Homo sapiens: one gene and its partners. The protein of the gene in region 3 interacts with the protein of the main gene of each other region in a biochemical or structural test. Each region holds a gene or a part of one and is shown on either strand. Other genes may lie near its edges.

Region 1 (3,287 bases), on a different chromosome or scaffold from region 3:
TACTTTGCATGTAACCTGACGTTATAAGTGGTTATCCTTTCCCCAGAGGGTTTCCTTTAACACTGAATAACTGCAGGCCATGGTAAAGAATCTTCTTGGGACCTATAGAGGGAATAGACTAATATGGGAAAAGAACTAGTCAAACATGATTAATGCAAACTTAGAAGAGTTTCTCAAAAGCCAAATGAGTAATGTTCATCTTCAAATGTTTAAAAAATTGATCAGAGGATAGGTGGGTGGTTCAGTTCTATGTTCTGGATACTGTCACCAAGACCAGGACTGGGTTAAAAATCCTATCTATGTCACTATTTTAACTATCAGAACAATATCAATAAGGAATGTGTATTCTTGAGAAGGGGAAACTGTCTGGACTGTTAGATAGAGAGGCTCCCACTGCATGCAGAGAAGTTTGGGGAAACTCCAGAAATGGCAATTTCCTGTTCTGCCTTAGCAGTGATGGTTAAAGGAATAGGAATTCATTTACTCCCTGTAAATGAATGAATAACGGACCTTCTTTCTATAATGTAAACTGTAAAAATTAGATTTGATATATATCTTATTAGGCATTGTTATTGAAATTTATCCTGAATTCCTTATTTATAATTTGTCAGCAGAGACAGTCATTTCTCCATAGGAGCAAAGTACCAAGGCATTACCTTGACTATCCTAGATGACAAGTCTCTTAGACAATTCATCAGTGTGTGATTTTCAAATGATTTCTCCTTTTAGGTTACTGTTGATTGTGCTCCCTGTTGAATTTTGAAGTTTGTTTTACTAATTATTGGAATTTTGTGGATGTCTTCTCATTTCTTTAGGGAATATCCCTGCGCTCCAGACGCCAAAATAAGACTGAGGCAGAACAGCAAATAACTGAGGTCTTTGTATTAGCAGAAAGAATAGAAATAAACAGAAATGAAAAGAAGCCCATGAAGACCTCCCCAGAGATGGACATTCAGAATCCAGATGATGGAGCCCGGAAACCCATACCTAGAGACAAAGTCACTGAGAACAAAAGGTGCTTGAGGTCTGCTAGACAGAATGAGAGCTCCCAGCCTAAGGTGGCAGAGGAGAGCGGAGGGCAGAAGAGTGCGAAGGTTCTCATGCAGAATCAGAAAGGGAAAGGAGAAGCAGGAAATTCAGACTCCATGTGCCTGAGATCAAGAAAGACAAAAAGCCAGCCTGCAGCAAGCACTTTGGAGAGCAAATCTGTGCAGAGAGTAACGCGGAGTGTCAAGAGGTGTGCAGAAAATCCAAAGAAGGTAAGCCATTTACTGTTTCCCTGTTTTAAAAGACACAGAATGTTTTGATGTATTTTTTGCCCAAGGTTGCAAAGGCAAACAAAAAGCATTATCTTCAACAGCACTCTGCCAGCTCCCAGTTACATTAATGGAAGGAGCATTATGCTAAGACATAAATTTGGTCATTTTAGTTATATTTTGTTGTGTCTACTTTGGGAATTTCACTTCAAATAGCAAATTCACGTTATGAAGACTTTCTTCAGAAAGAAAAGGAATTTGTCTAGTGGCTAATTTCTGACTGCTTATGATGTACCTCATGATACAATTGTAGGTAGATGTCTTCAGCCTTTCTGTAGTTCAAAATCACCTCTTGAAACAGGAAAATTCTTTTTCCAAAAAAAACTATTGAAACAGAAAAATTTCCAAGGCATTCTTTGGAAAGGCAGAAGGAACAGAAGTTGGGATGTCCCTGAGACACATGCTCACTATGTGAGAGTTCCTGGTCAGTGGGGGATGCGTCTGCCCTCCAACCCTCCTCCAGCCAGAGACTATCTAAGCTAATGAACTTTAAGTGCTACTGAAATCACATCAAGTTGAGCCACTCATAATTACAAGCATGTGGACAAATCCATAAGAATGATTAGATTCCATTAGTGTTCTTCTGGGGAATACTTGGTTTAGCTAAAATAAAAATAGGTTGAATTGCTCCCTTTTTGTGAGCAATTCACAAAAATATAATATAAATTTAATTCTTAGCACACACAAAATTTGGACCTAAAACTACCATATTCTGAGTTCAGCAAACGAAACTCATGTAGCAATAACCTCTTCAGATACAGAATTCTGGCAAGTACAGCTGTCCAGACAGACCCTCTTCGGCACAAACTAGGAAGCTTCAACTGCCAAGAAAAGGAAAGATTCCCAGGTGTCCCCAGTACCTGCTGCATAGCCAGGCAGCCAGTGGAGGGGGAGGGCTTGTGTGTCTGGATGGTGGGCAGGAAGTCCTAGTGGGGAGATGCCCATAGACTGTTCCAGAGAGGGAAGAGGAGAGGCTCAAGAAGGGCACTGATGCCCACACAGGTGTCCTAAGTCAGAGACTGTACTTCTGGGGCAGGCTGGAAGCAGAAGACACCCGACAGTGCCAGACAAGGTCCTAGAAACCACAGGCACACCAGGGACGCAACAGCTGACGTGGGTCAGCACGTTCACCCGTCGAGTCTTACAATAAAACGCAGGCTCCAGGCGCTTACCGAATTCACAGTCTGGAAGGTGCTGCTTCCTCAGAATGAAACCAAAGAAGGGTGAAAGCGAATCTTTTAACTAGGATGATTCCTAAACACAGAGCAACCAGGCCCAAGGCTGAGCCAGGCCTGGTGTGTTCTGCCGGGGGCGTTCCAGCCTCTTCTCACACACAAGCACCCAGGAGACGCCCAACACACACATGCTCCTCTTTGCCGAGCTCTTCGGTGGGTGTCGGTAGTCCTAGAAAATGCATATATAAGATAGATTTTTTCCAGTAAGAAGCTTGTAGCCATGCTTTTCACCATGGTTCCTCTCCCTTAGCCAAGGGGTGAGAACTACTGCAAGAGTAAAGGCCAAGGCAGGTCTCCTGCATGCAAGTTGGGCATGCTTCTGTCTACAGGGGTTCCTTGGTTTAGGAGACCCAAAAGACTTAATCCTGGTTGGATTCACTTTTTCTGAGTGACATTTTTTAGTTTGTGAAAATGTGTGCATCGATGAAGAAATTTTATTATGAATTAGCTTAAAAATGCATTAGGAACTTCTGTATGAAAAGATCACATTATTTAAGTGTAAAAAAACTGCATAATAAAAGCAGTTCAAGTCAAGAAAAACAATGTTAATGGAATATATTTTAAAACTTATTTCCAACCTCAAAATTAATTTTCTGCAACTAAGGACCTGCATAATACCTAGTAAGCCTTTGGGGTTTTGCAGAGGAGGTCGATTCTAAAAATGGGTGTTTAAATTACTTAAGAGTTCTATTTTTTTTCTTCCCACACAGGCTGAGGACAATGTGTGTGTCAAGAA
Region 2 (3,655 bases), on a different chromosome or scaffold from region 3:
GTCAGGCCCAGAATGGGAGAGGAGCCTGCGGAGTACTAGACCAGCTTCAGAGTTGAGCAACATAAAGAACAAAAAATGCAGTTGGATTTAGCACTGAAGATATCTGAACCTGCCCAAAGCAGCATCAGGAGAACTAGAGGGGGAGAAGTCTAGAAATCTGTTGCTCCCCAGCCAGGGTAAAAACACATATCAAAGCCTGTAGAACATACAACCATGAAGGACTCTTGCGGTTTTTCATGGGCACAGGCCATGGAATCTTAGAGATCATGTAGTCAACATGTTCATTTTACTCGTGAGGAAAAATGAAGTTAAATGAAGAGGTTAAGCAACTTGTCCAAGATGGCAAAGTCACCAGGTTTCACACCTCTCAGCCCAGGTGTGTGGTGTGGTTAAGAGCATGGGGTTGGGGCCGGGCACGGGGGCTCACGCCTGTAATCCCAGCACTTTGGGAAGCCAAGGCAGGTGGATCACCTGAGGTCAGGAGTTCAAGACCAGCCTGGCCAACACGGCGAAACCTTGTCTCTACTAAAAATACAAAAATTAGCCCGGTGTGGTGGCACAGGCCTGTAATCCCAGCTACTTGGGAGCCTGAGGCAGGCGAATCGCTTGAGCCTGGGAGGCAGAGGTTGCAGTGAGCTGAGATTGTGCCACTGCATTCCATCCTGGGCGAGAGAGTGAGGCTCTGTCTCAAAACAAAAGAAAACAAAACAAAAGCATGAGGTTGGGGTAGGGTCCGGGTTTGACCCTTTCCAGCTGTGTGGGCTGGGCCAAGTTACCTGGTCTCTCTGTGACTCCTTTTCTTCATCTTTAAATGGAGATAGTAGTTCCTGCCTCAGAGGGTTGCTGTGAGGATTCAGTGAGTTAATACATGTCAAATATTCAGAACAGTGTCCTACACATAGGAAAAGCTATGTGTTTGCTGCTGTTGTTAATCCATATGTATGTGTGTATGTGTATATATACACATATGACATACATGCTTTAGGGAAGGGATGATGACAATATATTGTGTGTATGTAAGGAAACTTTGAATATTTTAGAAAGAGATTTGGGTGATTGTCGGTTCTGAATCAAAAATTGTTAGAAAAGTTGGGAAATTTACTTACATGGTATGATTGAAAACAGCATTTTTAGTAAGAAATGCAGCACCTTCATTCTTGAGAACGGAAAACATGAAAGCATTCTGACGTTAACCCTGTAAAAGGGTTTCTTTTAGTCAGATAACCAGAATTTTAACCTATTTACAATGGAAATCCCTCGAGTTTGACTTCAGAATGTCATTGTGACTTTTCTAAAGGTAGAATGAACTATAAAGTAAGAAAAAACTATGGGTTATGACTTTCACACATTTGGCTCCTATGAAAAAAGAGTGATTTGTGTTATTTAGAGGACTATAATAATTTTTTTAGTGTTTCTAGTTGAGCAAATCTAATTTTTAGCTACTAAAACACATGAGAAGCCTGAATGGTATTATCCAAATGGACTTGGGTGACATGCAATATAGACAACTTAGGAATAAGTGACACTGTGGACTTGATTAGAACGCAGTAATCCTGGAAGAATATAAATTGAATTGGATTTATGGTCTAATAAAAACGTGGGAGGAAAAGATAATGCTTACTGACTCATGAAACTTTAACAATGTTTGTAAGACTCCGAGTTGTTGTAATATTTGGTTGAGAGCGCTTTCCCATTTGTCTCAGCCTGCTTCCAGAACAGCCTGCTGTGCACCTCCGTCTGGAAGTGAAGCCTGACTTGGGTCTCCTTCTTGGGTATACTTAGGAAGCAGAGATCATCACATACTCTGCCCTTGTAAACCCATGACCTCGAGCAGCACTTGGTTGGTTTAGGCAAATATGTATTGAGTACCTATTAACTGTAAGAGTTTGGGGGAGAAAAAAGTACCATGGGAAAGTCCTAGCTCATTGCTTATTTGCACTCAGAAAGCTTTTTTAGAGGACTACTTGTTTCTGGCCTTGTATTCTCCTTTCTGTGATACTGCAAAAAAGTAGAGAGCATACCACAGCTACCTACTCCTCCCTGAATACACCATAGAAATAATAGCACCTGCCATTTTATTGAACTCGGAGGCATGTGTTAGGTGCTTACATACAGTCATGTACTTAATCATAGCAACTCTAGGAGGCATGTATTATTATACCCATTAGTCAAATGGGGAGACTGAAGCTCAGAGAGGCAAATGGCTCATGGTCACACAGCTAATAACTAGTGAAGCCAGGTCTGTGTGACTGCTAAACTCTTTCCTGCTTTTGCTCCAGAGCTGTGGTTCCTCATTCCCTGCCTCCTTGCCTTTGCTTTGCAGTTACTTCTGTGTCCTGTGTTGCAGGATGCAGAGGCACCTTTACCCACCGTGGAAGTCTCACCCTTTCTGATGACTCCCCTCAAAACCTACTGCCTCTTGAGAAGCCCTCCCATCTCTCTTACCTCTGGGCTCCCAGAGCACCTGATTACCACCTCATCATCATCCTCATCATAGCCTGATTCGTAAGGCTGAGGGAACCAGCTGGGTAGGACAGTGGGGCAGGCACTGGCCTTTCCCACCGACTTGTGAGCTCTTTGGAAGTCAGGGACTCTATTTTATGATTGATTTGTCAACATAACACCCAGCACAATTCTAGGAGGTACTACCATTATTATCCCATTTAAAAGATGGAAAAACTGAGTCACAGAGGCTAAGTGATTTAGTCAGCGTCACAGAGTAAGTGACAGAGCTGGGATCTGAACACAGCAGTCTGGCTCCAACATCTATGTTCTTCACACTAAATTTGCGCCATCTCTTTAATGAGATTGTAAACTGTGAGGGTGGAGGTGGTGCCCAGCAGCTCCCAGCCTAGTATCTCACAGACTCTGCACAGTAAACATCAGCCCTTTTGTTCTCCTGTCCACCCCAGCAGAGTGACAAACAGAATATATTGAACCAGGTCTTATCGCATAATAAGAAAAGAGCACAAATATGCTGAAGATCTCATAGAATGCATATCCCCAGGCCTCATTTGGATTCAGTGGGTATGGGCCAGGCAGGGCTGAACGCTTCTCATCTTTTCTGTATCTGGGAACAACAGTGAGAAGGGAAGAGTCAGCAGGCAGCTCTGGAAGACAAGGAAGGAAGCAAACATAGGGAGTCCCAACTAGAGTAGTGGGAGCAGGCGGAGAAGTGGTAGAAACCATCAGTCAGCAAGAGTCAGAGAGTGCCGAAGCTTGAGAGGGGCCCGGGATCATAAATCCGCACAGAAAGACCTCTTAACTTGTAATTTAAAGGTTTCTAAGTACCTGTGCCTTTTGAATATGCTGGTGGGATTTTATCTGATGAAGTCAAACACTTTCATTTTCTTCAGAGCTTCCATCTTTGAGGTATCCAAAAATAGTAGGCTTTTCATGGAGTTGTATAAGGATTCCATCTGCTTTATATTGAAAAGTAGGGCTTTAATGGAAAATTAAAAATGAGCCAGATCTCCTTTCCCACAACAAAGCCCAGGGCACTTTTCCCAATCCTTTCTTCTTTTAATCCCCAGAAAGTTACTGAATCTGTATTTCTGTGAAATCCTGCCCAATTTAAATTCTACTGAAAAGGCAAATAAACACCAACAACTTCATTTCCACACAAATGTCATGTCTATTTAGAAGCAATAACAAT
Region 3 (3,655 bases):
CAAGGAGGCCAAGCATGATAACTCATGCCTGTAATCCCAGCATTTTGAGATTATGGGCAGTATGTTGCCCAGGCTAGTCTTGAACTCCTGGCCTCAAGCCATCTCCCACCTCAGACCCCCAAAGTGTTGGGATTACAGGTGTGACCCTAGCACCCAGCCTATAAATGTATTTAAATACACAGAAGCAGTCTGGAAGGACCCACACCTAACTGATTTAACACCTAACTAATTTCACCCACATGGGTATTAACATTTTTCAGGTAAAGGAATTGAGGGACATAAAAATTAAACAGCAGGCCAGGCACGGTGGCTCACACCTGTAATCCCAGCACTCTGGGAGGCCAAGGTGGGCAGATCACAAGGTCAGGAGTTCAAGACCAGCTTGGCCAATATGGTGAAACCCCGTTTCTACTAAAAATACAAAAAATTAGCTGGGCGTGGTGGTGCACACCTGTAATCCCAGCTACTTGGGAGGCTGAGGTAGGACAATTGCTTGAACCTGGGAGGCGGAAGCTGCAGTGAGCCAAGATTGCACCACTGCACTCCAGCCTGGGTGACAGAGCAAGACTCTGTCTCAAAAAAAAAAAAAAAATTAAACAGCAAATCCAAGGTCACACAAGTATTAAGCTTTGGAAATGGATTGTAAACCATCATTACCTGGTTCCCTTAGGGAAGGAATAAAGAGTGAGTAGTGAAAAGTAAGTTCTGTTTGACCAAAATTACTTGAAAAAACAATTTTTTTTTTGGAGACAGAGTCTTGCTCTGTTGCCCAGGATGGAGAGCAGTGGCGCAATCTTGGCTCACTGCAGCCTCCACCTTTCAGACTCAAGCAATCCTACCACTTCAGCCTTCTGAGTAGCTGGGCCTACAGGTGCTCACCAACACACTCAGCTAATTTATGTACTTTTTGTAGAGACAGGGTTTTGCCATGTTACCCAGGCTGGTCTTGAACTCCTGGGCTCAAGTGATCCTCCCACCTCAGCCTCTCTAAGTGCTGGGATTACAGGTGTGAGTCACCGTGCCCAGCCCACTTGAATTTTTGATAATAAGAATGCCTTTGTTTAAGAATAAAAGAGAAATCTTTTGCAGCAACATGGATGAAACTGGAGGCCATTGTCTCAAGTGAAACGAATCAGACATATAAGGAGAAATACTGCATGTTCTCACTTAGAAGTCGGAGTTCGATAATGTGTACACATGGATGTAGATTGTGGAATGATAGACAATGGCAGCTGGGAAGGGTCCAAGGGGTGGGAGGGGGTAGATGATGAACAATTACTTAATGGGTACAATGCATGTTATTTGGGTGACGGATACCCTAAAAGCCCTGACTTTACCACTACACATCTATGCATGTAACAAAATTACCCTTGTACTCCATACATTTATACAAATCAATCCAGCAAACAAAAAGGATAAAAGAAAAAGAATGAACTCTTCCCTCCAAAAGAAGGGAGGGGCAAGGAACTGAACTAGCTAGGAGGTCGAGGCAGCAAAGGCTCAGATGAGGCCCCCTTACCATTGTCTGTAGCTATGATTAGGGCTGTGTACGTGCTGTTCTTCACGTGCTCAAAATCCTCCCTGTCCAGCTCAGCCCGAGTGGAAATGGCACCAGTGTCCGGATTAATCTCCAGCCAGTTGGCAGTGTCTCTCCAAATCCGATATCTGAACGGGGACAAGCTCTGGCTTTTAGAATAGGACCAGCAAACAACATGTAGCTGAAAACGGCTTAAGCGCTTCTTCAGTTATATGGTTACTTCCAACGTTTTTATTTTGAAAACCAACAATAGGCCGGTCGCGGTGGCTCATGCCTGTAATCCCAACACTTTGGGAGGCTGAGGTGGGCAGATCACCTGAGGTCAGGGGTTTGAGACCAGCCTGGTCAACATGGTGAAACCCTGTCTCTACTAAAAATACAAAAATTAGCTGGGTGTGGTGGCACACGCCTGTAATCCCAGCTACTGGGGAGGGTGAGGCAGGAGAATCGTTTGAACCTGGGAGATGGAGGTTGCAGTGAGCCGAGATTGCACCACTGCACTCCAGCCTGGGCAACAAAAGTGAAACCCTTTCTTTCTTTTTTTTTTTTTTTTTTTTTGAGACGGAGTCTTGCTCTGTAGCCCAAGCTGGAGTGCAGTGGCGCGATGTCGGCTCGCTGCAAGCTCCACCTCCTGGGTTCACACCATTCTTCTGCCTCAGCCTCCGGAGTAGCTGGGACTAGAGGCGCCCGCCATCACGCCCGGCTAATTTTTTTGTATTGTTAGTTGAGACGCGGTTTACACCGTTTTAGCCAGGATGGTCTCGATCTCCTGACCTCATGATCCGCACGTCTCGGCCTCCCAAAGTGCTGGGATTACAGGCGTGAGCCACCGCGCCCGGCCGAAACTCCGTCTTTAAAAAAAAAAAAAAAAAAAGAAAACCAAGAAAACCAACAATACAACAGACAAGTTACTATAATAGTATGATGACCATCCATGAACTCTTCACCTGAGTTTACTCATTGTTAATACTTTGCCACATCTGCTCTGTCTATATTGACACACGCCTACATAATTTCTTGTTCTGCTGAACCATCTGCAAATAAATTGCAGAAGTCATGTTCCTTTACTTATAAATATGTCAATGTGTTATCTCCTAAGAACAAAGGCATTCTGTTATATAACCCCAATTTGATTTTCTTTTTTTTTCTTTTCTTTTTTTTTTTTTTTGGGACAGAGTCTCGTTCTGTCGCCCAGGCTGGAGTACAGTGGCGTGATCTCAGCTCACTGCAAGCTCCACCTCCCAGGTTCATGCCATTCTCCTGCCCCAGCCTCCTGAATAGCTGGGTCTACAGGCACCCGCCACCACGCCCGGCTAATTTTTTGTATTTTTAGTAGAGACGAGGTTTCACCATGTTAGCCAGGATAGTCTCGATCTCCTGACCTCAGATGATCCACCCATCTCGGCCTCCCAAAGCACTGGGATTGCAGGTGTGAGCCACCGTGACCAGTCTTGATTTTCAATTTTAGGAAACAAAACTTTGATAGAATTCTATTGTCGAATATATGGTGCATATTCGAATTGTCAGATTTTCCAAAAATGTCCTTTATAGCAACCTTGCACCCTTCTGGATTCAGGATCCAATATGGCCTTTCGTTGGCATGGCTCTTCCTTAGGTCTTTCTTTTCTGTCACTGACATTTTTGAAATGTGCTGGCCGTTGTTTTGTAGCATGCCCCTTAACTTGGGTTTGTCTGATTATTCCTCAAAATTTAGATTCAGGTAATCCATTTCAGGGGTCGGTGGGGGCAAGAACAGGACAGAGGTGATGCTGTGGCCTCCCTAGTGCAGGACACTGGGAGGCACATGATGTCTGTCTGTGCTTCTATTGATAACTTTGATCACTTGGATAAGGGAAAGGCCACCAGATTTCTTCACAGCAAAGGTGCCTTTTTTCACTGCATGATTAACCTATAATCTGCAGGTAGATAATTTGAGAATATCTTGTTCAGCAACTAATTTTCACCCAATGGATTTGGCATCTGTGGATGATTCTTGCTGAAGCAATGATTACTATAATCCTTATTTATTTTTAAAAGCAGACTCCTGCAGACCAGCTCCCCCAAACAATACAGTAGTTCCTAAATGGTGGCAACATGCCACCTCCTCTCCTGTCATGA

Evidence for each region.
Region 1: of the proteins of CDH1 (region 3) and MKI67, one has a biochemical effect on the other in vitro, tested with the Homo sapiens proteins (one study listed by BioGRID).
Region 2: the proteins of CDH1 (region 3) and FYN form a complex in vitro, tested with the Homo sapiens proteins (one study listed by BioGRID).

What each region holds. Positions count from the first base shown.
Region 1 is NC_000010.11:128,099,230-128,102,516, reverse strand, and holds part of MKI67 (proliferation marker protein Ki-67), read left to right. Parts: intron 1-815; coding exon 816-1,259; intron 1,260-3,261; coding exon 3,262-3,287. UniProt on the Homo sapiens protein: Protein that associates with the surface of mitotic chromosomes and acts both as a chromosome repellent during early mitosis and chromosome attractant during late mitosis.
Region 2 is NC_000006.12:111,863,394-111,867,048, reverse strand, and holds part of FYN (tyrosine-protein kinase Fyn), read left to right. Parts: intron 1-3,655. UniProt on the Homo sapiens protein: Non-receptor tyrosine-protein kinase that plays a role in many biological processes including regulation of cell growth and survival, cell adhesion, integrin-mediated signaling, cytoskeletal remodeling, cell motility, immune response and axon guidance.
Region 3 is NC_000016.10:68,817,290-68,820,944, reverse strand, and holds part of CDH1 (cadherin-1 isoform 1 preproprotein), read right to left. Parts: intron 1,666-3,655; coding exon 1,520-1,665; intron 1-1,519.